Regions from separate parts of the Homo sapiens genome. Here all the other regions are reported to be linked to region 4. The links are microRNA targets in miRTarBase. Many come from high-throughput screens and were not tested one by one. Region 4 holds a microRNA gene; each other region holds the end of a gene's coding sequence. Distances are between the middles of the regions.

Region 1 (7,433 bases), not on the chromosome of region 4:
GGTGGAGGTTGCAGTGAGCCGAGATCGAGCCACTGCACTCCAGCCTTGGTGACAGAGTGAGACTCCATCTCCAAAAAAAAGAAAAAAAGAAAAACAAATAATTGAGAAATGGCTTTTGAGGCCAACAGCAGGACCAGTGCCATCAGTGGATTGCTAATGATTATTTTAAATGCTAGAATCTATCAGAGTGCAACTTTTGTATATAAAGTACTCAAAACTCAAAGAGAAATAATACTAAGTTGCTACATCAGGGGCATATTTCATAGGTTACTCATAAAGGGTGTAGCTAGAGGAGGAAGTTAGGGATTTAGTGGAAAGCAAATAGTGCTAAAAAAGGCATTGACTACTGTAAAAGTTTCTGGGTTTTAGGAAGAGCAGAAAGCTTATGATACATAAAATGTTTATCTCCCCAGGCTCCAAAGACTGATATTCTTGTGGAATTACCTACTTTCACTGAATCTAAAGAGAACATGGTGGATCTTGCACCTCAACTGAAGGGAACTAAGGTTAGACAGTTACTTTCCATTTGGTTAATTAGATTAAAAAATGAAAATAGCAATGGGTCATTTTCTCCTGTTTTAATCCCCTTAATGAAATTGAAATTCAATACAATAATGTTCCTTAATAAGGAATATTTATTGTACTGTTTGATCTAAGAGGAAGCTTAATATTTGGCTACACGTAATTAGGTTCCAGATTTTGCCTTTTGAATCCTGTGCCAGGATATGAGGTAGTTGTGACAAGTTCCTGGTAGTCAAGGTAGTGGACTGTAGATTAATACACATTTTCTTTTAAATCAGTAACCCAACTCTCAGTTCTGATGTTTAAGGATGAAGACTTTATACAGCCGCCACCAGTTACATCATCACCCATAACACCATCAACACCTATTTCATTACCTAAAGGACCCATCACTTCTTCTGAAGAACCTGTAAGTATCTTTAATAAATGAAAAAGAAAGAGAAGACCCTTTCCCTCTAGTTATCTTTAAGGGCAGTGAGAATCTAGAATTAGTCCTGTTGCAAAACACTGCACAATTCTTCCTGTTGTCCAAACAGGAAATTGTAGGCCAAACTTTAGTCATCTTGTAACCACGTTTTTTACTTCAACTATCCAAAAAAAAAAATTGTGGGTCAGACTAAAACATGCAAAGTGTAGAAGTCAGTTACAATATAGGCAGACCCTTTTTTTCTTATGTGCCAGGTGGAAATAGTTTCCATGTGTTATTTTACACATGCTTCCGACGTGAGGAAATACTAGCTGGAAAGCAACTTTAATTTCCAGAGAAATGCATGTAAATAAGAAACTACTTATCTATCATCCAGTTTTCCCAATTGGGTGAAGGGATTTGGGGCAAGAGCACAGGGCATGAAGAGAGTAAACAGTGGGGAGGTTGTGGGAGAGTTGAAGTGGGAAGTGGCTCCTGTGGACCAAAGACATGGCTGGCAGGACAGAGAATCTATGAAGACACAGATGGGGTAAGCCCAGAAAAGCATCCCAAGGCACACACATACCTTGTTTTTTGTAAATCTCCTTTATCTTTTATTACCAAGGTAAATTATAATCTCAGATTTGACTTTGTGGTCACTATTTTGATTAAGAAAACAAAAATAGCATTCACTCCTTAAGAACTTACACGTCTGTGACTAATGCCTACAGTCCTTGTTTTTTACGCCTAGACACTCCAGGCCAAATCACAAATGACGGCCCAGAACAGCAAGGCTAGTTCAAAAGGAGCATAAAGGACTACTTGAGGATGGAGCTCACTCTCTTCAGCTTCCGGCCCTCAACAGTGGCATCTGTAAAGGACCTCCCAGATAAGACTGTCTGGCTTCAGAGAGCGGATCAGCTGTTTAGCCCGTGGGGCAGTCCTTTGAGGCCTGGTAACCATTCCAGGTGATGTGGGTAGTGAGACCAAGTTCAGACCACTTAGAAAAATATAATTGCAAAGTCCCATTTCCTCTGTACCATTGTCACCCCACTCAACTTTGTATAAAGCCCACCCCCCATCATGTTGTTTTTTTAGTTTCATGTGTACGTCCCTTCAGAGAGGAAATTTTTTGCACAATGGAATCAGCTTGGCACCTTAGATACCTGTCTCCTATGGCTTGGAATTCTGAGTAAGAACTTGGAAGTTCCAAAAACCATTTTAGGAGCACCTGATTAACTTTCTGAATGATCCACCAGTAGGATCAGCACCCTGGAAACAAAGTACCTTATGAGATGGGATGGATATACTCCCCAGTAAGATCTTTCTGGATATAATGAAGCTTCCTGGAGAAACAGACTGGCAATCAGAAAGATTTGGCTGCTTCCGACACCTCCATCTTGGGCCTGCAGAGGCTGCAGCAATCTGTGAGGCAGCCGCAATCTGCGAGGCAGCCACTCTTCTAGCACATATGGCTTTCATTAGCCACCATTTTGCTAGGAAGCATAATTAAGGGTTTAAGCCTTAACCATGTTTGTGTTGGGTGTGTGTGTTTCTGGCCAGTTTGTCTTTCACAAATAAGACTATTAGTCATAGGGATTGTGAAAGTCTGATATAATCCCTGTGCTACCCAGCAACAAGTATTACATTAGGATATTTATGCTTGGTGTTTTCAGTATTAATAATATGAAATAATAGATAGACTGCCATGCAGCTGACCAAGGGCTTTCTTCCCCTGGGGAGTGGTTAGAAGGCCAAAGGTATTTCAGCCTGTAGGTGATAAAATTAGATTTCTTTACTTGCTGTGGTTAGACAGCAGTCAGTTAAAACAAGTAAAACTCCACTGTCCTGTCTGGGATCACCTAAATGAGGAATGTCACCAGCACTTCACAGCAAGAATATGCATTCTACAATGCTTTCTAAATTTGTGCTCCATCAGAGAAGCCCCACCATGTCCCACTAATGAAGCCCAGTTCTTTGGGAATGATGAATCCCTACTGTGCACATACAGCAATCATGGATCCTGCCTATCGAGGTGATTCACAATACACTTTCCCATTTCAAAAATGACGGGTATTTTAATTAGTCCACATTTCAGGTGTTAAATGTGGGAAAGGGATTAGCTAAACTTGCTCAATTCTGTTTTAGCTGAATGAGTCATAGGTACTGCTGGGCTGTCCTACAGTTCCTTCTGGCTTTCCCTCCGAGCAGGGTGGGAATGAGCAGTGACCTGGTCAAGGGACCCGGGCCACTTGATAGACCTCTCCTCCCACTCTTCTGCTAGCAGCTCAGAGAAGTCAAGGATGTTTTGTTGTTCTCATCATTTAGGGTGCTTGGCTGTTGGGTTCAGTGATCCTTACATCTAGCCCCAGCTAGTGGTGTTCTGGTAAATCGTTAACCACCAACTCTTTGAGCCTCCCGGGGTAATGAAAGTTACACCTCTAGTTAGCATGTTTATGAAATAGATCCCTTCTGCACGCGAAGACCTGCATGTAGGGCAGTATGGTGGAAATGGTCCTGAATACTGTTGACGGTCCACCTAGAAGGAACCCGCCCAGACCAAGTCTTAGCAGTTGGGTTCTTACTGACCACCTTCTTCCCTGGCTCTCCTCAGTGGAGGGAATGGAAGGCTGTGCCAGCTGTTTCAGAGCTTTCTCCTCTCTGCTCCCTTCTCTATAGATGCAGATGCCTTGGCTCTACCTGCCACTAATGATCTCATTGGGTATGACTTTAGATTTTTTTTTTTTTTTTTTTTTTTCTTTTGAGACAGTCTTGCTGTCACCCAGGCTGGAGTGCAGTGGCACGATCTTGTCACTGCAACGTCTGCCTCCTGGGTTCAAGCGATTCTCCTGCCGCAGTCTCTGGAGTAGCTGGGATTAAAGGCATGCACCACCACGCCTGGCTAATTTTTGTATTTTTGTAGAGATGGGGTTTCACCATGTTGGCCAGGCTGGTCTTGAACTCCCGACCTCAGGTGATCTGCCTGCCTCAGCCTCCCAAAGTGCTGGGATTACAGACATGCGCCACCATGCCTGGCCACTTTAGGCATTCTCTAAAAACCCAACTACAGTGATGCTAGATGTGTCCTGGGTCTTACACACAATTCTGCTACAATAGAGAGGTGGTGGCCACTGACACTTAGGGCCTTGCACCTGTGTCATGTCTAATTCTAAAATCATCCCAAAACGAGCCACATCAGTGCTGCCCAGTTTTTCTGTAATGCCAAATCTAGGCTAAAGATTTCCCACTCACCACCAGCACACACTAGCAGGTAGTAGTTGGACCAATGTGACTTGAGAGCGGACTGGTGCTTCACCTAATGCCAACTGAAACTTCAGCTCGCTGGCTCCACCCAGTGGTGGCGAATAAGCACAGCAACCTCATTAACAATGAGACAGATTTCTTGCCTCATTTGATGCTCAATCTTACTTACCTGAGATCAATACATTACATTAGCAGGGCCAAGGGACCGATGATCTCCAGCCTATGGCAATTAGAAGAGACGGAAAGGCAGTATTGATTAATGCTGTGGTGATCCCAGCCCTAATCTTTTAACCCTCAGGAAACCAGACAGACTCAGTGCCTTCATGGCACAACATCTTCATTAGATAAACTGGATTCCTTTCCTCAGGAGACCCAATTTGGTCCTCTAAGTAAAACGGCCATTTCATTTTCTCTCAGGTCAATTTCACTGTCTTTTATTTGACAGCTAGCGCAGTCTTTGGGGAAATTTGTGGGTGATTTGAGTAGTAACAGCAAGGACATCACTGTAATTATGATAGTGCCTTATATTTTTCTAGCACCTCTCCCAAGGACTTATGAAGACTTTTAGATTCTTCATCCCTTCACACAACATTGCTTCAAGGTAGGGCCAAGGCAGAAATTATCATCACTGTTTTACAAGGAAAGACACTCCTGTGCGGTCTCAAAGCAAATGCTTTTAAGAGCTAAAAATTCATTTCCTAGTTCTGTTCACCAAATGATGCCTTCTTTAAACATAAATACAAATTGTAATGTTAGCAGGTGCTATTTACAGAGAGAAACAAAGAGAATTTTACAATAGTCGCCAACACTGCAGCTGCCAAAAAATCCCTAGCTCAGAAATTTAAAGCAGCAATCCCATTTTCCCTACAGAAATGAAAACATATTGAACTTTCTTTTGTATTTAGCAGTAATCCAGCAAAATATAAGCTTTAATATAGCGACTGAGGAGTGGTAGTTTGAGCCATGAGGTACGGGGGAGCCAGAATCCACTTAGTGAGGACAGTGATGACCAGCAGGTGGCAGAAGTAAATTCCAAGCAGCCAAAAAACCAAAAACATTCGGAGAATTTTCCCCCCGTTCCTGAGGGACAGGATGGAGTTTGGACAGGAAGAACTGTAAGAAGCCAAGATCTGCGACAGTCCCAACAAATACAGTCTGGTCACATGGATACAGGAAGGACGATCTGGGGAGGCATACCAACAAGAAACGAAGCCAGGGACCTGAATGCAAAACTAGCCTCAGGTGACATGTTCTCCTGCACTTAGAAGCACTGGCAAAACCATGCCCACATAGAGGGGGCAGACACATGTCTGGGTTTCAGTTTCTGCAGACCTTCATCATTTGTTTTCCTTTTTGTTTTCTCTGTTGCCCAGGCTGGAGTGCAATGGCGCAATCTCGGCTCACTGCAACCTCCGCCTCCCAGCTTCAAGGGATTCTGCCTCAGCCTCCTGTGGAGCTGGGATTACAGGCGTGTGCCACCATGCCTGGATAATTTTTGCATTTTTAGTAGAGATGGGGTTTCACTAAGTTGGCCAGGCTGGTCTCAAACTCCTGACCTGAAGTGATCTGCCCACCTCGGTGTCCCAAAGTGCTGGGATTACAGGCGTGAGCAACCGCGCCCTTGCTTTCCTCTTAATCACTGTAGCTCTACCCCGTGGCTATTCCTAGGTAGGTGCCCCCTCCCCAGCCCAACCCCACCGGTTTCCTTGGAGGAAACCATCCATGGTCGATGGCTGCTGGGCCTTGACTCTCTGCCCAGCGCCTCTACTGCATGGATGGGGTTCCTGCCCTCGAAGCAGACATCTTCTTTTTCTGACTTTCCAAAAGCAGCGGAGAGGCAGGAGGTGCGTCGTGAGGTCTGGGTGCAGGACCTAGGAAGAAGAGGTTACAAGGAACCTGCGCCGGGAGCATGCGGTGCCCTCGGGACAGACCTAGCCCCAGGGCCCGTGGGTGTCCCTTCTTTCCAGTGGACATTCCCACCCTTTTCATACAGCCCATAGATAAATGAAGCAGCAGCAATTTTTATTGAGGGACCTAAACTGAAAATAGGTTTAGAACATAATTTAAAAAAATAAAACAGCAAAAGTAGCAAAAAATATATGACCTTTTTAAAAACATTTTCCTTTTTTTTCTTTTTTGTTTTTAATATATAGCAACTGATGCCTCCCAGCCACCAGGAGCATCTTACCCGATGGGTAAATCTCTGGTAACGACCCTTTTAAAAAGACATGTAAATATATACTCAGATTTATACACTTTGTGTTTTCTTCATAGCTATATACAGAGCCCCCAGTTTGGGGCTGGGCCCCAGGGCCACAACACTGCCCCCAACCTGGCCTTCGCCTCACCATCCTCTGGTACCAGGCATTTGGTCAGCAAAGCAAACTAGTATCGGAATTAATAAGCCACTGGCACCACCTATCTGGGGCAGAGGTCACCTTCAATCGAGGCACGAAGCACTGACCTCCCTACTGCTGTAGCCCTGAGGACAAGGCACCTGCCACCAGAGTGCGAGGGGCTTATGGGTGAAGGCAAAACAGACCAAACCGACAGGAGAAAGCTCAGGAAGCTCTCACTTGCATGCCTGTTCATTGGCTCCCACTCCCTGCCCTCCAGGCAGTGCCTGGTGGCAGGGAGGGGTGTTGGTCCAACATCTGGGAGGGGATGAAGTGGCTGGCAGCAAAGATCTGCCTCTTTGCACCTCTCACCAGCAGGTGGAGAGGAGGTGGAGGGAGAGGTGAGCTGAGTGGGGTGAAGGCAGGCCACACAGGAAGGCCCCTGGTAGGCAGCCGGCTCCTGCCAGCAGGAAAGGGGACAGGGACGGACAGGTGGTGGGCCCAGCAGGGGCTGTGGGTGAGGGTTACAGCTGACGGTGGAGTCTGGGGAGGGCGTGTGGGTGGCAGTCAGCGGCGTTTGAGTCCGCCATTGGCAAGCTGGGCTGGGTGTCGGGGCAGGCAGGGCTCCTCGGGCAGCGGCTCATGAGAGAAGACGGAATCCTCCCCTGAGGAGCACGTAGAGCTCCGGGTGTCGGGAAAGCTGGGGGAGTACTGGTCCAGGGGCATGGACAGGTCCAGGTACTCCTGTGATGGGCGAGAGGAAGCAGCGATGGGCCGGGCCCCTCCTCCCTGCTCAGGGAGGTGCGTGCACGCAGTGGGGACGGCCTGAGCTCTGGCTCTGGCACGGGCAGCCTTACCTGGTTGGAGGTCAAGGCCACGATGCGGTCCAGGTCTTCCACCAGCTG
Region 2 (7,442 bases), 59 Mb from region 4:
GGTTTGCTCTCAGGCTGGAATCTAGAGGCCTCTCTGCCAGGCCCTGGGTGGAGGTTCTCTCAAGTCTCTTAGGAGATGCCAGAGGAGCAGCTAGCAGAACCCATTCAGAGTCAGCTGAGGCACGGGTGAAGGATGCCGGCGAGGGCAGTTGCAGAGCCTCGGGGAGCCTCCTGCCTGGAGAGAGTGGCGGAGCTGCTCTCCGGCTTCCTCCCTCCCTCACCTCCAGGGGCAGCCCCAGCACGGGCAGGGTGCCCCCAGGTCTGGAGGCAGCAAAGGCCGACTCCTGGCAGGACCTCAGTCAAATCCGTGACAGCAATGTCCGGTTCTGATGAGGTCCACCAAATTTATGCCACCCACTGGCCAGATCCCCGGTGGTCAAAGCAAGTCACAAGACCCGGTGACTCACAGGAGCCAGGGGATTAGTGGTCTTTGTGCAGAACCCCACCTATTCAGCAGTTCAGCTTTGCTTTAGTGGTTTCTAAAGAAGATAAAGCATGGCTTTCACTTTTTGGAAAAGCAAGGTCACCCCAAACCACTGGGCCGGTGAGCCACCCGCAGCTCTTGAGAGCTCCAGGTGCCAAGCATCTGCACACAGTGGGAGTGGGAGCCTCGCAGGGCAGTGCGGCCGGTACTCCCACGGTCCTTCCTGGCTCTGCCTCAGTGAAAGCCAAACACACTTAGAAAGCGCAGAGAGAGAGAGAGAGAGAGGCCGGGTACAGTGGTTCACGCCTATAATCCCGGCACTTTGGGAGGCCGAGGCAGGTGGATCACGTGAGGTCGGGAGTTCGAGACCAGCCTGACCAACGTGGTGAAACCCCATCTCCACTAAAAATACAAAATTAGCTGGGCATGGTGGCGGGAGCCTGTAATCCCAGCTACTCGGGAGGCTGGGGCAGGAGAATCGCTTGAACCCGGGAGGCGGAGGTTGCAGTGTACAGAGATCGTGCCATTGCATTCCAGCCTGCGCAACAAGAGTGAAACTGTCAAAAAAAAGAAAGGAAGGAAAAAAAAAAGGCAGCAGCACACAGAGAGAAAGCATCGTTCATTCTAAATCTCCACAGGAAGCCGCGGTCGTGTATTTATTCAAACATAACAGTCAAGTTCTGAGCCATCCTCCACGATGGCACAGCCAGCTATACAGTCCCACGCAAAGGCATGTGACAGCAGAGAGCAAATCCTAAGAACGTTCTGGAATCAGTCACTGGGACAAGAAAAGAGAGTTCTGGAGACCAAGGCCTCCCAGTCCAGAGCTTCTAATGAGATCCATGGTAGAGCCCCACTTCACCCCAAACAGGCCAGAATTTGTGCTGCCCCCTGGAGCCAGGCAGAGGAGACTGTGGGTGTGTTCAGGTGCACTCATGCTCAGCCCAACTTGGCACAGGGCCCATGGCTGCACCCGTTCCTACAGCCTTCTCCAGGCATTTTCAAACATTCTGCCCCATGGACAGTGCCAAGGAAGCTCAGTGCCCAGCTTCTGTCTATACCCTAAACCTTGTGGAGAAAGAAAAATCATACCACCAGACTCCCACGATGCCTGAATATGCCCAGGCTCTCCATTTTATCGGAAGAGGGTGCCCCACGCGCAGCCAAATTACTTTTGTTTTCAGGCTTCTAAGAGAACTAACACTACCTTGAAAACAACAAAGAAACTAGTGAGGTGGGGGGGGAACACCAGAATGTGGAGAATACCTTTTTCTTGTACGTGCTTTTTTTTTTTTTTTTTTTTTTTTTTTGAGATGGAGTCTTGCTCTGTCGCCCAGGCTGGAGTGCAGTGGCGCAATCTCGGCTCACTGCAACTGCCACCTCCTGGGTTCAAGCGATTCTCCTGCCTCAGTCTCCCGAGTAGCTGGGATTACAGGTGCCCACCACCACGCCCGCCTAATTTTTTGTATTTTAGTAGAGACAGGGTTTCACCATGTTAGCCAGGATGGTCTCGATCTCCTGACCTCGTGATCCACCCACCTCGGCCTCCCAAAGTGCTGGGATTATAGGCATGAGCCACCGCACCTGGCCTTTATTATTTTTAAACAGTATGAAATTTAGAAGCAAACACGTATACAAAAAAAAAATCCATTACATTTATTAATAATATATCTTAGATTCTCATCCTGTTCTTTTAAATGGCGCCCACTGGTCTCATACAGAGGAGCTGTGTGACTTTCTGGAATTATAGAAATATCCGCATCCAGCCATGTGCTGAGCAGACCAATGTAAAATGTTCAGCAGGTTTTCCAATGTCTCTTGGATATATTTAATCATCTCTGCAGAAGAACTCAAAATCTCAGAGCAGCTCCACTCCAGATCCAGGGCAGGAGGCAGCCTCCAGGGAGGGAGGCTGCGTTTACGAGAATCTGCCTTTTGTGTGTGCCTGGCTGGGACCAGCCTCTGGGAAAGAGAAGCACCAAGATGTGAACAGGGCTGTGGGCCGATGGCTTTAGCAGCCACATAATCCCTCCTTTGATGTCCAGGGTCAGTTCGAGCCTGGTCCCCCAGGCTAGGAGGAGACGAATGAAAGAATCTTGCTGTGGTCTTTCCTGCAAAGGAAACAGCAGTAACATTGATTACCCAGTCACCGGGAGGAATTCTTGTGAGCGCGCACCTCTGTGTGCCTTTGCTCTCCACTTTCAAGAGAGGACTTTAATCACAGGACAAGGAGAAGACCCAGGCCCATTTCAGTCTCCGGGACGGGTCACAGCGAGCCGTGTGACGCTGGCCTGCTCACACGTGGCCATGACACCAGCAGGCTGTACTCAGGCTTTGCGTACACAATAGCTGCTAGGAGTACCCATTTCAGACACGCACCCACTCTAACTGTTCTCAGAAAGTCTCAGCTCACCTCGCCGTGGGAGAGCTGGGCCCTGCCTCCCTTACACATGGGGGCAAACGGCCCCCTGCTGGCACTGTGTCCTGCCTTCAGGCCTGGGAGCTCTTAACTTTCTGCCAACAGGGTTTTCCAAGTCTACAAACCCCCACGCCGCAGGAGCACATGCAGATGACTGGCACCGTGCTGCCGCCGGGCCGGGGTGGACGCAGGGTGGACGCGGGCCTGTCTGCCGCGAGTGGGAGCCCCAGCTCTCCTGAGCCTCGGGCACTTACAGACACGAAGGCTTTTTGCTCAAGGGCTCGACTCCTGTTCCTGCTGAACTGAGCCAGTGTGTAAAATGAGAACTGATATCAGCTCAGTAGGCACCGGAGGGCGGGTCCAATCGACAGCCCGGAGAAGCAGCGCCTCAGCTGGGAGCTCCGTGGGCACCGTCTGCTGGCGCAGGAGACGCGAAGGCCTGGACTGCAAATACAAGAGAGAGTTCACCGCGCCCAGAACAACAGGAGCTCCTCCGAAAGCCCCGCCCCGCCCCGCTCACAGCCATGAGCTACCACATGATTTCACACGACTTAGGTGATGCATTTGGTTTTAGTTTTTTGTAAGAAGAATTTTTGCAACTTTCAATACATTTGACCTTTCAGACAGATGTCCGATTAGTGCATGTTTCTGTGGACAGACTTAAGGACTCAGTACATGGCTAGCATTCCCAGCAGGAGACAGTGCATCCTTGGGGTCAAGTGGTCTCTCATCCTCCAGGATCGCGCTCCGCACCCAAGCTGACTGTGCAGCAGCGGCCGGCCCGTCAGCAACGGCCTCTGCCCCAGCGGCTCCAACTTAACTGTCCCCATCTCACCTTCTCTTCAGGTGCAGAACTTAGCCACTGTGAACAAAGCGGAAACCAATCACTGTTCACCAATCAGCTAAGCTCTGCACCTTGTTAGAGAGGTCATCGCTGGGCATAAATAAAGGGACGGTGACCGGTGAGCATCTTCCTCAGCTGGTGGCTTCTTTTGTTTCCAAAGAAGAGCTACGAGATGCACCTGTTCTCCAATCTGCAGTGAGCGCGACCACGGTTTCTGGAGGAGCAGCCAAGGTCGTGGTTGCGTGGTAATCCCTGGCAATGTGATTTTAATCTTAAGTCACAAATCAGCATGCCAGGAACCCAAGCAGCCAGAGCACCTGAGAGCAGCGCCACCCCGTGCTGTCTGCACACACTGGGCTTCCGCGGAAGGACGCCGGCGACACTGCCGCCTTCACGCCTGTTATGCTAGCAAACAGGTGGAGTTTCTGTTTGTTGTTCGTTTAGTTGGCATCCTAGAGGTATAATTTCTTGAATCAAAGGGACTCCAGAGATGACCATAAAAATGCCAGTGCAGCTTTGGAACTGAAGAAAAATGCAGGGACCGGCCATGCGACACACACAATTGCTAAAGGCAGCTGTCCTTGCTATTAGTTTACTGCCTCTAACCCTTGGGGACAAGATCCCTTCTCTCCAGGCAGATTCTAGCTGCCCTGGGAAGGCTTTGGGGACTCTCAAGTCAGGAGGTCCCCCTGCTGGAAGGGGCCCTGGGACAATCCCGGCCACTGTTCCTCACGGGGACTGGTTGGGGGGCAGGCTTGCAACCCCTGGATGCATCTGGAGGGGTGGGGACAGGATCGAAGATGCTGGGGAGGGGGAAAAGGGAGACTTGTGACCAAGATGACTCCTTTGCCTGCCTGGGCAAAAATTCCCCATAAAGAGTGGCGAGGGGTGTGCCCTGTGGTGCTGCTCCAAAACCTGCACCAAAGGGAATGATGAAAGGACTAGCTGGCCTTGTAGTTTCACACACTTTAACACGTACGCCACGAAATAACAAAACGAAAGAGAAACACCATTTACACTGATTACTATTATGAGGCCGGCAGTGAGGTAAGTGCACAGTCTGTGTGCCGCCAGCCCGTCCTGGAGGGGAGCCGCGTCAAGTCTGCAGCAGGCGTTTCGCTACGAGACGCTCAGTCCCGTTTCCCTTTCCTGGCACACATGGTTCCTGACTCTTCTGGAAGAATATGATCATGCTTCTGAAAAACTTTTTATTTCTTTTCATTATTAGAGTTCTTTCAGATAAATAAGCTACTTAAACACGTTACACAGAAATGGTTTTCATAAGCACAAAACATTAGAAGAAAACTCAATGTTCAAAACTGAGTGAAGAATATCAACACCAAATATTCAATATCCATGAAAAATTATAGAGAAGCTATAACACGAAAAATGCTTCAGATTTGATAAAGTTTTTTTAAAGATACAAAATTAGACATCCCCTATTAATATCATATAAAACACTGAAGAAAAACGGAGCAGACACAGAAATAATGATGATTGTTAGAGAAAAAAAATCTCACAGCTATCCTAACAAAACCTTGTGTACTACCGCTAGGTTGCTTTAATAGTGTAGAAACCCATACTGAGCAACTAACTGCTAGGAAGTAAATCTAACAGGTTAATTCCAGGCACAATTAACAGAGGAAGTGATTTAAATAATCTAGGACTCCAATAGAAGCCAGGGGAGAAATTCCGCTCCAACACAACAAAGCAAAAAGTAGGACCTGCCCTCAAGACACAGGGTCATGGAGGCCATATGCCACGTGTGCTGTGTGCGCCGCGGGTGCTGTGTGGTGCGTGCACTGTGTGTGCCACATGTGCTCTGTGTGGTGCGTGCGGTGTGTGCTGTGTGTGCCGCAGGTGCTCTGTGTGGTGCACGCGCTGTGTGTGGTGTGTGTGCTGCATGCAGTGTGCGCGCTACGTGTGGTGCATGTGCTGTGTGTGCTCTGTGTTGTGCATGCGCTGTGTGTGGTGTGTGTGCCGCGTGTACTCTGCGTGGTGTGTGTGCTGTGGGTGCTCCAGGTGCTCTGTGTGGTGTGTGTGCTGCGTGTGCCGCGTGTGCTCTGTGTGGTGCGTGCGCTGTTTGGTGTGTATGCTGCATGTGCCGTGTGTGCTCTGCGTGGTGCGTGCGCTGTGTGTGCTGTGTGTGCCGCGTGTGCTCTGTGTGGTGCGTGCGCTGTGTGGTGTGTGCTGTGCGTGCTCTGTGTGGTGCGTCCTCTGGTGTGTGTGTGCTGCATGCAGTGTGTGTGCTACGTGTGGTGCATGTGCTGTGTGTGCTGCGTGTGCCTGGAGAGCCTCCTGCCAGCCGATGACCAGGCGTGGACAGCCCAAGGAACCTCCAATTCACACATGGCTAGAAGAAAACATCTGCTTGCAGAAGCTAGGCTTTGGAGTCACACGGCCGCTTAAACTCCTGTATCAGCCGTGACCCTGAAGACTGGACCAGCGCTTCTGCCAGGCTTCCCATTCCATCTCTAAACCTACTCAAGATGTTCCCCCACAATTTTTGTTTCAACAGATTATAAAACCTGAAGTGGCCAAAATAGTGCCAAGGAGTGCCGCTGTGCCTCCAGGTGGACAGCCTCTGCTTCCCGGTGACTGCCACAGCCAGGCAAGGTGCTCCAGGGACCCGGGGCTCCCATACCAGCCCAGCACCCACTTGGCCAGTTACTCTCCAGGCCCTGGGCCAGGGAGCCGACTATTGATGCTGCGGGTAGTCTTGGCTAACTATTCGGCTTACTGATTTAGTTGGCTCCTAAAAGGAGTATCTGGTTAGAACTAAATGACAGAAAGGAAAGGGAGAGAATCACCTCGTTAAAATAACATTTCGGCCACCACCTGGGCTGAGGACCTATCCATCTGCTCCTTGGTCCGCTCGAAGCACCTACGGGCGAGCTGCTGCTGTCTGGCGTCCTCACTCACCATCAGCTCCCCGTAGAGGTACACACCCATGGCCTGCAGGGCACAGAGGCCAAAGGGCATCAGGCGAAGGTGTGGGTACCCACACACACGCACACATGAGCTCAGTCTGTGCTTGTTCCACACACACTTGCTGGTCTAGAAATTGCAAAGACCCCAGAGAAGACAGAGGCCGTGGGCTGACTGTGCTTTTGGAAGCTGCAGTCTGCAATCCCTGTCTCCTCCTTGTACTCAAAACCCCAAGGAATCCTCAGCTCCCAATTCTCTACACAGACTCTGACGATTTCACTGGTGACAGAACGATGAGCAGGCATTCCCACCATGATGGCCGTGTCAGGAACGCTCTGAACAGACAGAGATGGTTCCCAGAATTACCACGCGGAGAGCCTGTGTGGCATTACAGACACGGGACTCCTGCCCCGCAAAGTGTGTCCCTAGGAGTAGCTGGTCTGAGCTCATCCGGGAAGTCCTTCACCTGCCAGGGAAGCAAAGAGCACAGCAGGCAGCAGCCGCGGCAGAGACACATCACGATGCCCGCAGAGACGCCCACCCCGCCTGCGCCCTTTCCTCCACAGCCCTGCACCGTAGCCCGCACCGGCTCTGCTGCTTGGGAACAATGCCGCAAACACTCACATCTGCATTTTTCCTGTATTTTTAAAATAGCCAAGGACGTTCTAGAAGACCCAAGGGCCCATCTGGATCTGTCTACTCTCTTGTGCCATGCTTAGTTATGCCACGAGTTACATTCCGCTGGAGTAAACTAAAAGAAGGGTCTCAAAGACATCGCAAGAGCAAAACTTCGTAGTTAAGGGTTCAAAAGTGCTTTCCCAAAAAAGT
Region 3 (7,442 bases), 96 Mb from region 4:
CCCCAGCGACCCTCGGAGCAGCCCGGGGTGCTGTGGGCATTGGGAAGGAAGGCCAGTACCAGCCCCTTATAGCTTCCCTCACTTGGGGACTTGTCCCTTTGTCTCAGGCTCAAGTCAGTATCATTGTTTGGTGACAGGTCTTTATTTTTACATTGAAGGAAATTTGAAAAGGAATGAAATAATCCTTGAGATGTCTTTTTGCAGGAAATTGTGAACAGAGGATCTGACACAGACGTCTGGAAGACCATCCTCTCAGAGGTCCGCTTTGTGCACGTGAACACTTCCGCTGTCTTAAAGGTAAGGACACTGTCCGTGGCTTGGCCTGTCCTGAGCTGTGGGCTCCAGTCTGTTTCCCAAGCCCCTCAGGCTTCACCGCCTCTCTGCAGGCGGAACGCTTCATTTGAGTCATCATGGCTTCCTCTTACACTGAGGGAGGGCGGCTTTTGTAACTTCTCAGGATGGAATCCCAATGTGAATCTCCCACAAGGGGCACCTGCTGACAGCGTGACCCGGGCAGGGGTTCCCCTTCCAACCCAAGTGGACACGGGAGCCACGGCCTTCCCATCACGCCCTTTACTCTCCTGCGGTGTCACCAGCTGAGCGGGGCTCACCTCCCTGACTGGGGGTATCGGCAACTGGAGATCGTCGGGGAGAAGCTGTCCCGGGGCTACCACGGGAGCACGGTGTGGAACGTGGAGGAGCACCGATACGGCGCGAGTGAGTCCGCGGCGTGGCTTCCGCCGCTCCTGGAATGTACTTTCAGCTGCTCAATATTTGATAACACCCCAGAGTTCTCATTTTGGTGGGAAGGGAACTGAGCACATTCTCCATGCTCGGTGGCAGGTCATCTCCCTCCCTGCACCCTGCACTCAGCTGCTGCAGTAATAACTCAAGACGCTTCTTCCGAGGTGTCGCTGGAAGGCAACCAGTTTATCCCCGTGCAAGTGGAGCTTTCTCAGGGTCGAAATCACCTCATTTGACCGGGCAGTCTTGGGTGTGGTGGGGAAAGCTAAGTGGAATGATGCGGTTCGATAAGGGGTCTTTGTTAGAAAGGCAGGAAGCCAGCTTTTTGCTGCACTGACAGCTTCTGCTCTGAGCTCTTGACCTTGTGCTACTTCTATCTGTTATGCCCTTGTCTGTTCTGCCAGGCCAGGAGCAGAGGGAGCGGGAACGGGAGCTGCACTCACCTGCGCAGGTGGACGTCAGCAGGAACCTCAGCTTCATGGCGAGATTCTCGGAGCTGCAGGTGAGGAGCGGCCAGGGGAAGCTGGCCTAGCTCGCTGAGCATTGACTCCTCAGCAGGGAGGCCTGGGGGCTGCACAGGACTCAAACCAGAGTCAGGCTTTGACGCTGGAGCTACAGGCTCACAACAGAATGAGTGTCTCCTCTCTCCAGTGTAAGGGACTGTGTGTGACACCCCTGGCCCACACCTTGTGGCCCTGTGGTCAGGAATAATAGGGACCCAGGAGGTTCTGCAACATCGCCAGGGTGTCTTAAGGCCCCCAGGCAGCGAAATGGGCCACACTCAACAGAGCCCAAGAGAAGTCACAATCAGAAACTCACGGTCACAAATCTGAACGTGACCTTAGAGAGCATTCAGCCCAATCACTTCGTCTACAGAGGAGGTAACTGGAGCACATAGGGTGGGGCGACCCTCCCAAGGCCACATTCAGGGCTGGAATCCAGGTTCTCATCATGCTGCCTCCGATGCATGATCCGAATGAACTTGAGCTGGGCCAGTCCACGTGCAAGGGGCAGCAGTGTACTCCTTTGACCAAATCCACGCACAGCGGGAGGCATCCCCCATCCTCAATCTCAGAGGCCTCTGCTTTGTTCCAGTGGAGGATGCTGGCGCTGAGAAGTGATGACTCGGAACACAAGTACAGCTCCAGCCCACTGGAGTGGGTCACCCTGGACACCAATATTGCCTACTGGCTGCACCCCAGGACCAGCGTAAGCGAGCGATGCTGACAGCTGACAGTCATAGATTCATCCTGTTTCTTGAGAATTCCTTGCATTAAGAGCAGCCGCTGCACCCTAGAAAGTGCTGGGTTTCTCCCAAGCTTTTCCTGACAAAGGCCTGTGACTTGGTTTTCTCTAAACGCTTTGGCAACCTGGAGCCAGGAGTAGGGGTGTGGCATGTGTGCCTGTTGAAGGAAACCCGGCTTGATTGCTTTTGTGGAGACACATTGTTCCCCTTTTCCTGGCGAAAGTGGTTTTAAGATATTCCCATTCAATTTTCCGTGTGGCACCTGGTGGTGGAGCTTACCGGTGCTTTGCTGATGTGCGTGCCGTCTCTCCACCCGGCAGAGTGAAAGCATTGGTAGGCCGGGCGCACAGTCAGCGCCCCATAAATATTCACTGAATGGGCAGACGCTGGAAATGCCCACCTTTTTCCTCCTCCCTCAGAGGCGGGTAGGTCGGCTCAGCATGTGCACTGAAGGCAGAGGCTCAGGCCCAGAGGCCGCCCCACCCCGAGCTCTGAGCGCACTTTGCATTCTCCTCCGTGGACAGCGCTGCTGTTACAAAGTGGAGTCATCTGCTCCCAATTTTCAGTTTCCAATTACAAAATTGAGAGCATCAGTGCTGTGTGTGTGTGTGTATGTGAGAGAGAAAGAGAGAGACGGAGTCTTGCTCTGTCATCCAGGCTGGAGTACAGTGGCGTGATCTTGGCTCACTGCAACCTCCACCTCCCAGGTTCAAGCAGTTCTCCTGCCTCAGCCTCCAAGTAGCTGGTATTACAGGTGCCCACCGCAATGCCCAGCTAATTTTTGTACTTTTTAATAGAGACGGGGTTTCGCCACGTTGGGCAGGCTGGTCTCAAACTCCTGACTTCAGGTGATCTGCCCACCTCAGCTTCCCAAAGTGCTGGGATTACAGGCATGTGCCACCACACCCGGCTGGCATCAGTGCTTTTAATGAAAGGTCTGAGTAGGAGCAGACCTGTCCACAGTAGTAGTAAGGCCTAGTGGATGCTAGGCTGTGCCTGGCGTTTTTTCACTCTGCTAAAGTAGTGCGTGCATCTGAATTCCTTTCCTGTGTTCTCTTCTCTTCCCTCCCTGAGCAGAGGGCAGGTGGCTAACAGCATCTCCCATGTTCCCTTAGGCTCAGATCCACCTACTTGGAAACATAGTGATCTGGGTTTCGGGCAGCCTCGCTCTGGCCATCTACGCCCTGCTGTCCTTGTGGTACCTGCTCCGACGGCGAAGAAATGTCCATGACCTCCCTCAGGGTTAGTACCTCTCCCACATGGCTTTCTTTCTTTTTAATATAGACATGGGGTCTTGCTGTGTTGTCCAGGGTGTTCTTGAACTCCTGGGCTTAAGCGATCCTCCTGCCTCGGCCTCCCATAGTGCTAGGATTACAGGTGTGCGCTGAGCATTCACCGCCTCAAGTGACAAACCGACTTCATAGGAACCTACCCCTTAACGCGGCCTCTTTGTTTCTGTATTGTGGAATCTTAAATTATGTTTGTCTCCCAAGAGACAAAATGTTAAGTTCCCATGTTGCGTTAGAGGTGTCTCCAGTCGAGTGCAGCGTATTGGGCAGGAATTGCCCTCTTGGTCCCATGTTGCCCGTATGCGCTGGAAATGGCTGGGTAACACAGGCAGCCAGGCCGGGCGCGGTGGCTTACACCTGTAATCCCAGCACTTTGGGAGGCCAAAGTGAGGGAGTCACCTGAGGCCAGGAGTTCAAAACCAGCCTGGGCAACATAGTAAGAACCCTCTCTCTAAAAAAGCAAAAGAGAGAGAAGACCCGGCCTGTGGGAGCAGCAGAGTCGGTGTAGCTCGAGCCCTTTCCTATAGATGCCTGGCTGCGCTGGGTGCTGGCTGGGGCGCTGTGTGCCGGTGGCTGGGCAGTGAACTACCTCCCGTTCTTCCTGATGGAGAAGACACTCTTCCTCTACCACTACCTGCCCGCACTCACCTTCCAAATCCTTCTGCTCCCTGTGGTCCTGCAGCACATCAGCGACCACCTGTGCAGGTACGGGGGCTGCGGAGACAGTGGCTGGACCGGGCAGCAGCCCTCTGCTGGGAAGCCCATGCGCAGCAAACACATGGGGTGCAGCGAACCTCACCCATTTCACGTTACACTGACATCCTCCGGGTCCCTCCGGGGAATGGGTGAGGTTCAGAAGAGATGCCCAGATGAGGCACTGCAGGAACCCAGAGGGAGAAGTCGCGGCTGACAGAGATGAAAGCGGAGTGGGTGGGGAGACGGGGAGGGGATGAAGAGATGTGGGTGGCCTGGAGGATTCGGGAGCAGGGAGCAAGGCCCAGGAGCCTGGGGTGTCAGAAACGGCAGCTGGTTATGGTCGGGTTGTGTGGTGTGGTGGAGAGAACCCAAGAAAGCTTCTAAACCAGAGTGTGTTTGGAGGTTGGAGCAGAGGGCGAGGGCCTCCCGGTTTCAGGAAGCCACACAAGGGAGGACCGTGGGTTTGGGACCAGTCCTCTGGCATCTGTGTGGAGGTGGCCCAGCCACTGTGGAGGCCTGAGGAGTCATCAGGGGGCCCCTCTCAGTGCATCCAGGTGGGAGATGGTCATGGGTGGCAGGAGACAAGACACAGAAACCTGAAGGCAGAACCCCAGGCCTCGGGGGGTGACCGTGTGGACAGCAGATGCCAAGAGGGTGCCGGGCAGGGAAGCCGCAGTGGTCAGCCACCCTCCCCCACGCTGCTCTGACCTCTGCAGGTCCCAGCTCCAGAGGAGCATCTTCAGCGCCCTGGTGGTGGCCTGGTACTCCTCCGCGTGCCACGTGTCCAACACGCTGCGCCCACTCACCTACGGGGACAAGTCACTCTCGCCACATGAACTCAAGGCCCTTCGCTGGAAAGACAGCTGGGACATCTTGATCCGAAAACACTAGAACAAGAGTGTGGCAAAGAACACCCGTGCTGGGGTCGGGATGAGGTTGAAGGGTCTTGGTCAATGTACGTAATGAGCAGGGTGGGCCCCACGCTGGGAGGACACGGGCTGGGCTGAGCAGGGCCTCTAGTGGAACACATGGGGGTCTCATTGAAAAGCTCTCTGATGAGCACCTCCTTTTGTGCAAAGTTAATTTTTTCTCGACAATAAAGATATTCCGTGTCTTTACCCCTGAACTAAGACACAGGGAGTATTTCAGAGGCCAGCGTAGGAGTCATTGACAACAAAAAGCCGAGAACCCAGGGCCAGCAGTGGAGCCTCAGCAGACCAGGGCCTGGTCCTTGCTAACTGCTGCAGGGTGGAGTTTGATCTGGCAGACCCGATCCTCCTTCATGAACACCCAGCAACCTGAGCAAGTCCCGGCCCTGCCCTCAGCGAGCCCGGCAGGCGTCCTGGGACAGCTCAGTGTTGGAGGGCCACCTGAACCACGAGCCAGGGCTGGGGCTTGCATGTCATTGTCTATGACAGCGTCAAGACTGGCCCTTGGCACCGTGCTGTGTGGAAACCCTCCCCTCTGAGACTCCACTGAGACGTGGCTGAGTGAAATCTTCCTCGTCAGTGGTCAAGGTGTGTCATCCATACAGCTCCATGCCTTTGTCTTTTTTAAATGTAATTAAAAAAGGAACCAACTGGCGTTTGTAGTTGGTGTTTGTTATTTATTGATTCTCCCTCCAAAGGGGCCTAAGCTCGACAAAACCGTTACAGTTGTCAGAACCCAGCCACAGGGCTCAGCCCCCTTCCCCCACGTCACGTCTGCATCACTACTGTGGGTGAGCCTGGACGGACGGGGGCTGGGGCTGCCCATGGCAGCGGCAAGGGATGCTTTCCAGAGACAGCCACCACGCAGGAGGGAGGATCACCCCAGGCAACCCAGACACGGGTGTTCACATGTGAGGCTGTGAGCTCCACATAGCACAAAGGAGGCTTGCTGACTTTGGGCGGCCATGTCTGCTGGGACCTGGGTGATCCAGTGCGTGCCACAGCCAGAAGCACCATTCCCTGCATATGGCCACTAGCCACCCTGGGGTGGGACAGCCTGTCTAGACAGACAGCACCTTGGGGGCTCCCCTGAGGGTCAGTGAGGGCCTGACCCCAGGCAGGACTGCGTGGACGCTGTTCTCCAGCCGGGACAGACCTGGCCTCCGCTGCCTTCTGCCCTACTGCATGGGCTCCCAGCCTGGCCCCGCACAAGCCTGGGTGTGATGCTGGGTGCTTCCAGGGCATCCGCCTCGCTTCTCTGCCTTTAAGGCACAAGCAAGGGGGGAAAACATCCCTCAGTGGCTCCCCATATCCGTGTAGGCCACGCTGGACTGCAAACCACTGGGTCATGAAATTAGGTTTGTAGGCCACAACCAGCCTTGTGTTATGAAACAGAAAACAGAAAACATGAGGACATGTAACATGTAAAAAAGGAAAGTACTTGTTCACAAAACTTTTGAGTTATGTGTGTGAGTGTGTAAGAACCAGATCAGACTGGAAAAAACTCTCTCCCACTGTGGGTTCACTGTCAACAAAACATCAGGCCAGCCAGTGTCTAGGCTGTCTCCTCAATTTCCCCAATAATGTGCCTCACATTCCTCACAGAAGCCTCCCAGGCTTCCTGCACATTCTGTGGCATTTCTCAGTGACCTAGAGGGATCTTTAAACCGCAACGAGCCTAAGTGGCTGAAAACCTCAGGAACGCCTGTCAGTGTCCCAGCAAGTTGAGTCTGAGTGACACATCTGAGTTTCCACTCCTGAGTGAGGAAGGCCTCGCTGCTAACACTCCCCTGGGGTGCGCCGAGAGGAAGCAGTGGGTGTGGGTGGGCGTCCCCAGGCTCAGTCCCTGAACACACATGCCGGGCGGGAGACCTGCCCTGAGGCTCGGCAGCCCCTCAGTGGGGTCTGCTGCTGGACTCCAAATGTGACCGTTTGCCAGAGGTCAGCATCCCAGGGTGGTCCCCTGGCTCAGAAAAGGTCCGCTTGTAGCTCCGCCCATTGGACCCTCCTCGGTGCCATTTGCAGATGTCACCATTCAGAATGTCCTGGATGTGCTGCACGATCAGGTTGATGGCAACTGCGCCAAGAGACAGACAAGCAGCGGGTTAGCCGCATCCATCCTCCGTGGAGACCGCCCCTCCCCGCAGCACTCGGCCAGGAGTGAGCGCCCAACCTCTGCCCTGAGGCACAGCCTGCGGCGAGGGGCATCGAGTCAAATCTCAGCAGACAGAAACATGCATCAGGACACAGCAAAATAAGACTTCTTAGCTTGGTCTTCCAGGAATTTATGTTAGAGTCTGCTTAAAGTACTTTCTGCTAACAGATTTGAATATACATATATATATGTTTTAAGAAACAGGTTCTTACTTTACTGCCTAGGCTGGAGTGCAGTGGCCCAATCACAGCTCACTGCAGCCTCAACCTCCCAGGCTCAAGCAATCCTCCCACCTCAGCCTCCTGAGTAGCTGGGACCAGAGGCACATGCCACCATGCCCAAATAATTTTATTTTTTGTAGAGATGGGGTTTTGCTATGTTCC
Region 4 (7,442 bases):
CAGAGAAGTTGTGAATTTAGCAGTAACTGATAAATGATGAGACCCATGGCAGAAAAAGACAGTTACCCAAAAAGAAGCTGTGTGTGCAAGGTCAGAGATGGGTCCCTGCCCTCTTTCCCACATGCCTCACCTCCCTCTACTCCACGGGGTCGGTCTGCCCTTTCCCAGACTCGCCTGTGGTCCCTGTTCCCTTGAGTTACCTGGGCCTGGGTACAGCCAGGCTCTCCCAAACTCTGGCAGGCCATCTGAATTGCCTGGTTTGCACGGGCAAACTGTGTGGGCTCCACTAGCCCTTGCTGTCCAGCTTGGCTATTGGGGTCAGAGACACCAACCAGATATGCAGCCTGGGAAGAGAAAAGGGGGTGGGGGTGAGGAATAAAGATTGCAGGTGGGAAATGAATAGTGATAGTAGGGACAAAAGAGAGCAGAGGTAAGTTTAGAGAATAGGGCTTATTTTCCAGAGTTCTCCATGAGTGGAGATACATTAGCAAACAATGGTTACACTATAAAGAAGAAAAAAAATACTCTCCTGTTTTCATTAAGTATATTCAAGCATTTCAGAAGATTAAAAAAGTTAATAAAAAGGAAAACTACATAGCAAGGGTTTTTATCCAATCTCTATTTAGATATGTTTGTGTATGTTGGGTCTTAGAGTGAAAAGTATGGCTTACTGTAAGTAGCAGTAAAACGTTTGAGAGCCATATATAAATACACACCTTTGTGCACACAAGCAAAGCCTCTTTTAAAGACAGTTCAAAACTGATGAAGGTTATTAGGCTAATTCACATTTATAGCACCTCCATGCGTCAGATATTTGGAAAGGAAGGGAGGGGTTAAAAAGCCATTTTTATGATGGAAAGAACATCCTAATGTTTGATTCATACTTCAATCAATACACAGTAGCTTTGCTTTTTCCTCTATGCATTTTCAGAAGGTGGGGGGAAAAAAACCAAACAAACAACAAAGAGGTTTAGTGAAACCCTGTCTCTACTAAAAATACAAAAATCAGACGGGTGTGGTGGCAGGCGCCTGTAGTCCCAGCTACTCGGGAGGCTGAGGTAGGAGAATCACTTGAACCCGGGAGGCGGAGGTTGCAGTGAGCCGAGATTATGCCTCTGCACTCCAGCCTGGCGACAGAGCGAGACTCCGTCTCAAAAAACAAACAAACAAAAAACCAAAAAAACAAAAAAACAAAATCAAACAAGCCATCTAGAGCAAGGCGCCTATTCTGACAGGGCACAGGGAGGTGGTGGAGATGGAGGGCTAGGATGGTAGGCTTTCAGGGAAAATAGTCTGAAGTGAACTCTTATGATGCCAGTTTGTTTTAAGGATTCATATACTAAAGCAAAATACTTTACAGCTAATAGGTAGTTTTATACTTGATAATGTGGGAAAAGGCAAAGTTAAGTGATAACTCAAGTAACTGGAAATTTTGTCACTAGTACTATTTTAAGAAAGTAGTGATTGGCCGGGCGCGGTGGCTCACGCCTGTAATCCCAGCACTTTGGGAGGTCGAGACGGGCGGATCACGAGGTCAGGAGATCGAGACCATCCTGGCTAACACGGTGAAACCCCGTCTCTACTAAAAATACAAAAATTAGCCGGGCATGGTGGCGCGCGCCTGTAGTCCCAGCTACACGGGAGGCTGAGGCAGGAGAATGGCGTGAACCCGGGAGGCGGAGCTTGCAGTGAGTCTAGATCGCGCCACTGCACTCCAGCCTGGGCGACAGAGCGAAACTCGGTCTCAAAAAAAAAAAAAAAAAAAAAAAAAAAAGAAAGTAGTGATTACAGGCCAGGCGCGGTGGCTCACGCCTGTAATTCCAGCACTTTGGGAGGCCGAGGCAGGTGGATCACGAGTCAGGATATCGAGACCATCCTGGCTAACATGGTGAAACCCTGTCTTTACTAAAAAAAAAAAAAAAAATACAAAAAATTAGCCGGGTGTGGTGGTGAGCGCCTGTAGTCCCAGCTACTTGGAAGGCTGAGGCAGGAGACTAGCGTGAACCCGGGAGGCGGAGCTTGCAGTGAGCCTAGATCACGCCATTGCACTTCAGCCTGGGCGACAGAGCGAAACGCTGTCTCAAAAAAAAAAAAAAAAAAAAAGAAAGTAGTAATAACATGAAAAAATAGTTTGTATAAGCTAATTAGTATATTTTGAGAAAGCCAGCTGGAAAAGGCCTCACGGTTGGGCAGTGTAATCCTAACCAAAGTACCAGGGTTCAGGAATTACAGAAATCAGAACTGCTGGTGTTCAGTAATTGCTGACAAGTGTCTCCACTTCAGGAGGAGGACAACCCAGATTCCATAGAGTTGGCTTTGCAAACATAAACTTCTTGATTTATCTACAGGTATGTCAGGCTGAGAGAAAATGGGGTAAAGAAAGTAGGGGCCATTCAAAGAACCCATCTCAGGAAAATAACCTGTGCAGCTGCCTCGGTGAAGCCACAAAGTGCCTTTGAGGCTGTGGAAATGGCATCTCCAAACTCTGGCAGGTTTCCGTTCTTGGCATTTTGGGAGATGCCAGTCATGGCCTCGCCCAGCACCTGAGGAACAGAGGACATCAGGGGAGTCAGAGCATGTCCTCAGAACCCCAGGGCAGCATCTGGTTAGCTCCATCCTACTGCCCTCTCTCCTCCGAGTTCCTGGCTGTGCTGACCTTTGAGTTCTCCATTACACTGTCCAGGCAACCAAAGTAGGACATGTCATTGATGGGCTGGACTGGGTTCTCCAGGAGTTCCCGGACCGTCTGTGTAGGGGGAGGGCAAAGTGAGATCCAAGACACCTCCCTCAGGCCCAAAACCAGAACACTTCCCTCAACCTCAATGCCATCAGCCTGCCATGTGTCTACCTCCAATTCCCGCAGGGCGTTATCACACTCCTTCTGGCCGGGTGCCTGCTGGGTGCACATAGTGATGAGCTGATTGATGCTGTCAGTTACTGCCCTGGGAGTGACAGAAAGTTGAGTGAAAAGGTGAATAGGTCATCATTCCTGGGTCCTATGTAAGTATTTATCTTTTGCCTATAACCATTCCTAAGCCAAGAAGCTCTCATGAACTGCCTGCTCCCCAGTCTCTCTCACACAGTCCAGGGCTGGGCTTCTCAGCAACTACTTACCTGGCAGCTGCAGCCAGCTGACTCTTGAGGTTAGGGGCAGCAGGGTCCGTGGACAGGGCCTTGGCAGCCAGAAGAAGTTTGCTTGAAGACATGGAGATGCCCTTCAAGTTGGACACAACTTGGGCTCGGTCCTCCTGGCTCTGTTGAAGGTGACAAGGTCAATGCATTGTCCTGTCCTTTCTTATCTGTCTCTAAAAGGGATCTTCTTTCCCAGACACTCAAGTAGTGCTAGAGACTGGGGAGGGAAGGGAGCCAGGAGCAAGTCAGGACTGGTCACTCAACTGCCTCCTATCTAACCCTTAGTGGGAACCATTCAACCAGACCCTCTGCCTCTTCATACCGGAGCCTGGCCTGCCATCTCCACACCAGCTTCCAGGAAGGTGCTGAAGTCCTGTCCAAATCGGCCTGAGGCTCGAGCCAGGTCCTGAGGGGTTCCCCGAGAGGCCTGCACCAGTTCTGTGGCTGCCTGATTCAGCCCAGCAGCAGCTTCATTCAACCGGCTCTGAGCTTCTTGAAATGTCCCAGTGCTAGGAGGAAGCTGCAAGGTGAGAGGGGAAGTCAGACAGAAGAGTGGGGAATGATGCAGGGAGAAGTCTGGTAAAGGAGGGCTGAAAAGGTGGGCACATAGCCTGGGAGTAATGAAAGGGGACAGATCTGGGAAGTCAGGGTCAAAGGACAACCGAGAGGGAGGAAGGAGAGGCCTGGCATTCTTTGACTCCTACGTTCCCCCACCCCCTACCGTCCTCCTACCGAGTCACTCAGGAGTCGCTTGCTGGCATCTCCAACTGCCCTCAGGGCATTATCCACATCGCGCTGGCCAGGTAGGCAGCTGACACAGCGGTTCAGAGCCTGGGTCACTGCTTTAGCCACCTGGGGTGAGAAAGGAGACAGGGTTGCCCAAGTGAAAAGAATTTGAGAGATCGCCTCCATTCACGCGACATGGGAGATGACTAGCTCTACTGCCTCTGAAAGTGAAAAAAGAAAGGGGGCGTTGTAGGTGAACAGGCTGAGGTTAGGGTTTCAAGTGACAGTAATTAAACTTCCCCAAACTTGGTGTTTAGCTCAGCCCATGACTGAATCCAACTGAGACACTTCTACAAGACCAAGAGGGCCGGGCACAGTGGCTCACGCCTGTAATCCCAGCACTATGGGAGGCCGAGGGGGGCAGATCACGAGGTCAAGAGATCGAGACCATCCTGGCCAACATGGTGAAGCCCTGTCTCTACTAAAACAAAATTCAAAAATTAGCTGGGTGTGGTGGCGCATGCCTGTAGTCCCAGCTACTAGGGAGTCTGAGGCAGGAGAATCACTTGAACCCAGGAGGCGGAGACTGCACTGAGCCGAAATTGCGCCATTGCACTCCAGCCTGGGCAGTAAGAGCAAAACTCTGTCTCAAAAAAAAAAAAAAAAAAAAGACTAAGAGAACATAAGGGTGGAATCCACAGAGGGGCTGTCAAGAGCAGACCCAAGAAGACATCACTCTGTGAGTGTGGACGAGGCTCAGAAGCTTTGGCCTCAATCAGGGTGGGCCTTATGAAGGAACCTGGGGGAGAGGGAGTGGCCCTTTCCCAGTATCTGACCTGGGCAAGCCGCTGCTGGCTCTCAGGGTCCCCTGGATGGCCAGCTGCCTTTTTCGCCTCCTCAATGAGGCTGCTGGCCTTGTCCAGCACATCACTGGCCGTATCAAGTACAATGGCCTGCACTGCAGGATCTGACGTCAGTGCAGCGACTCCCCTAGCGGCCTGGGCCAGTGACCGCAGCCCACCTGCCACATCCCGAGCTGCAATACCTTGGGAGATGAGGAGAAAGAGGGAAGGGAAGGTGCTTTCATTGCCAGGCCCTGATTCCAGTGGTTTCGTCTGTCAGTCCCATCCCTCATCCAGCTCCCATTTTCCTACCTCCCTCACAATATGCCCCATGCCTGGCTCTCTGCCCACATACCTGCATAATTCTCATTGCCCTGGGCAACCTCTCCCAGTAGCTGGGCGATGGCTGAGCTCACGGCTTTGGTGCTGTTGCCCAGGTCCTGGGTACACTTCTCCATCTAAGGATGAAGGGGGAAGAATTGGGCTTGAGAAAGGAGAAGGTGAGGAGAAGGAACCTGAGAAGGTACTTGGGGACAGGTGGCAATTTAAATAAATGTTTTGGGCTGGGTGCGATGGCTCCCACCTATAATCCTAGCACGTTGGGAGGCTGAGGCAGGTGGATCACCTGAGGTCAGGAGTTCAAGACCAGCCTGGGCAACATGGCGAAACCCCATCTCTACTAAAAATACAAAAATTAGCCAGGCGTGGTGGTGCATGCCTGTAATCCCAGCTACTCAGGAGGCTGAGGCAGGAGAATGGCTTGAACCCAGGAGGCAGAGGTTGCAGTGAGCTGAGATTGCACAACTGCACTACAGTTTAGGTGACAGAGCGAGACTCCATCAAGAAAGAAAAAGAAATAAAAGAACGGAAAAGAAAAGAAAAGAGAAAAGAAAAGAAAGAGGAGAGGAAAGGAAGAAAAGAAAGGAAGGAAGAAAGAAGGAAGGAGAGAGAAAGAGAAAGAAAAAAGGAAGGAAGAAGAAAGAAAAGAAAAATAAAAGAGAGAAAGAGAAAAAAGAAAAAGGAAGGAAGGAAAGGTTTTGAGCAGCTCTGGGGCACGGAGGTGAAGGAAGACTTTAGGATTTGAGTAAGAATGAGGTCTTAAACATACTTACTGTCTCCCCAGGTAAGGGTTTAAGCTTGCCATCTCGAGCTGCTGCCTTCACTTCCTGTAGATCTTTCTCTAGATTCTGTACCACACTCAGTGCAGAATCCATCTCCAAAGGTCCACATGCTTCCTGAGCCTATGATAAGAAAGGGGTTTTGGGTGTAGAAGGTCCTGCTGTGTCTCACCAATGCCTCTGATTACACAATTATCTGCGTATTGGGTTATTCTGCACAGATTTCCTCTCATCACAGGACTCCAGCCTCATCTTCCAAAGCCAGAACCAGCTTCCATACCTTCTGGGCAGCCGTCCGGAGTTCAGCCAGCGCGGTGCCCAGGTTCTTGGCACACTGACTCAGCTGCATGGCTGAAGCCTGGTCCTGAATCGTTGGCACTGAGGCCTTTGCAGCTGCCACCATCTTCCCACCTGGCTGTTGGGGAATAGGCAGGTGGATGAAGTGTGCCATCCTCCCTCTGGGCTTGGGTACAAGGACTGATGATGGTCAGGATGTAGGGAACACTGGGGCTTGGTATTGGGAAAGAGGCTCTTGGCAGAGATTCAAACTGTGGGAGATGGAAGCTTAGAAAGGTGGGAAGGTCAGGTCAGAGAAGTGCAGAGGGGGTGCCTTGCCTGCAGGAAGCTCTGGCTGGCAGCAATGAGGGCAAGCTGAGCGCTGGGGCTGTCAGGCTGGGCTTGGCTTCCTCGGACGCCCTGCACCAGCAGTGGAATCTGCTCTGCCACTGCCTGTAGGTGAAAATGTCATAAGAGACCCACAAGTCTCCCTCTTCCACTCCCACATCCTTCCTAGAGTCTTACCTTGCAGCTCTGCACCAGCAGGGGCTGGGGGCCGGCAGAGGCCTTGGGGGTAGAGGCTGCGTGCTGAGCTGCAGCGATGGTCTGTGTGGCTGAGGCTGCAGCCTGCTTGGCTGCATGCTGTGAAGACAAGAGTAGTCAGACCAAGCCCATGGATTCCCATGCCCAGCCCAGTCCCTGGCCTACCTTGCCCAGGTTATGCCTCAAGGACGTATTAACTTACTCTCCGCACCTCCCTTTCAGTTCATTCCTCCCACAGCACCCACACTCTCTCTTGCTCCTGGTGAAACTCCCAGCCTCACCTCCAGGCGCTGCACCAGCTTTTTCTTGATGGCATTCTGCGCAGCTGCATTGGTGGCCATGCGCAGCCCCTCAGCTGCCTCCCGCAGCCGCTGCTGCTGCTCCTCACTGTCAGGGTGGGCAGCTGCTCCCTGAGGGAGAGGTGGAAAGACAGTCATCACCCAGCTCTCCTGTGGATCCTAAAGAAGCTCCTCTCTCACTCCTCTAGACTCAGTTTAAAATTCATGTATTTTCCTGAAGTCATCTCTAACTAGCCCCACCAAAAGGCAATCACCTTTGAGAGGAGCTGACTCATGAAGGTCAATGGGAAACCTCAGGGGGCTAGGATTCCCACTGGATGCTGAAATCCTTTCTTAAGGTGGAATTGTTTTGTCTTCCCCTCCTTGGGGAATACCACACGAGTGAGGTGAGTAGGGCTTCCTGGACAAAGGAGGACTCAGTTTAGAGCAGGCATCTCAGGAATACCAAAGCAGGGGACCTGCTTACTCCTGCCAACTGAAAAGCCCCAGAGTCCAGGGGGCCTAGG

What was found. Region 4 holds the annotated microRNA hsa-miR-6852-5p (CCCUGGGGUUCUGAGGACAUG, at 2,576-2,596, opposite strand). A microRNA usually pairs through its seed, bases 2 to 8, with sites in the 3' UTR of a target mRNA and lowers its output. Matches are read on the target gene's strand: a 7mer-m8 pairs with bases 2 to 8, a 7mer-A1 pairs with bases 2 to 7 and ends in A, and an 8mer does both.
Region 1: the mRNA of LETM2 is a reported target of hsa-miR-6852-5p. The part of its 3' UTR that is shown has no 7-base or 8-base seed match.
Region 2: miRTarBase lists AOPEP as a target of hsa-miR-6852-5p. The part of its 3' UTR that is shown has no 7-base or 8-base seed match.
Region 3: the mRNA of UCK1 is a reported target of hsa-miR-6852-5p. Seed matches in the 3' UTR shown: 7mer-m8 at 6,694-6,700 and 7mer-m8 at 5,946-5,952.

Annotation. Positions count from the first base shown.
Region 1 is chr8:38,406,533-38,413,965 of GRCh38, forward strand. LETM2 (leucine zipper and EF-hand containing transmembrane protein 2) reads left to right here. Exons shown (of 11, transcript NM_001286819.2): 9 at 414-506; 10 at 830-931; 11 at 1,680-2,995. The coding sequence ends at 1,742. It overlaps FGFR1 (fibroblast growth factor receptor 1), which reads right to left. Exons shown (of 18, transcript NM_023110.3): 17 at 7,386-7,433; 18 at 4,611-7,272. The coding sequence ends at 7,096. It overlaps LOC102723716 (a long non-coding RNA gene), which reads right to left and starts at 6,479. Exons shown (of 4, transcript NR_188043.1): 1 at 4,362-6,479. RefSeq lists a silencer at 3,219-3,268 and enhancers at 5,881-6,553, 6,554-7,227.
Region 2 is chr9:95,081,774-95,089,215 of GRCh38, reverse strand. It overlaps AOPEP (aminopeptidase O (putative)), which reads right to left. Exons shown (of 17, transcript NM_001193329.3): 16 at 6,497-6,641; 17 at 2,057-2,534. The coding sequence ends at 6,501. MIR23B (microRNA 23b) reads right to left here and starts at 4,008; the gene lies at 3,912-4,008. It overlaps MIR27B (microRNA 27b), which reads right to left and starts at 3,771; the gene lies at 3,675-3,771. MIR3074 (microRNA 3074) reads left to right here and starts at 3,122; the gene lies at 3,122-3,202. It also overlaps MIR24-1.
Region 3 is chr9:131,518,241-131,525,682 of GRCh38, forward strand. It overlaps UCK1 (uridine-cytidine kinase 1), which reads right to left. Exons shown (of 7, transcript NM_031432.5): 7 at 5,561-6,981. The coding sequence ends at 6,800. POMT1 (protein O-mannosyltransferase 1) reads left to right here. Exons shown (of 20, transcript NM_001077365.2): 14 at 205-297; 15 at 597-717; 16 at 1,149-1,246; 17 at 1,840-1,953; 18 at 3,106-3,232; 19 at 3,807-3,984; 20 at 4,692-5,559. The coding sequence ends at 4,866. Among named protein-coding and RNA genes, the nearest start is that of UCK1, 9.3 kb to the right of the region's middle.
Region 4 is chr9:35,708,141-35,715,582 of GRCh38, forward strand. It overlaps MIR6852 (microRNA 6852), which reads right to left and starts at 2,601; the gene lies at 2,536-2,601. It overlaps TLN1 (talin 1), which reads right to left. Exons shown (of 57, transcript NM_006289.4): 21 at 6,919-7,047; 22 at 6,620-6,736; 23 at 6,434-6,547; 24 at 6,099-6,233; 25 at 5,813-5,941; 26 at 5,056-5,158; 27 at 4,695-4,903; 28 at 3,865-3,984; 29 at 3,455-3,652; 30 at 3,115-3,254; 31 at 2,849-2,942; 32 at 2,657-2,746; 33 at 2,421-2,543; 34 at 201-344. RefSeq lists enhancers at 2,641-3,840, 3,932-3,981, 6,567-7,442.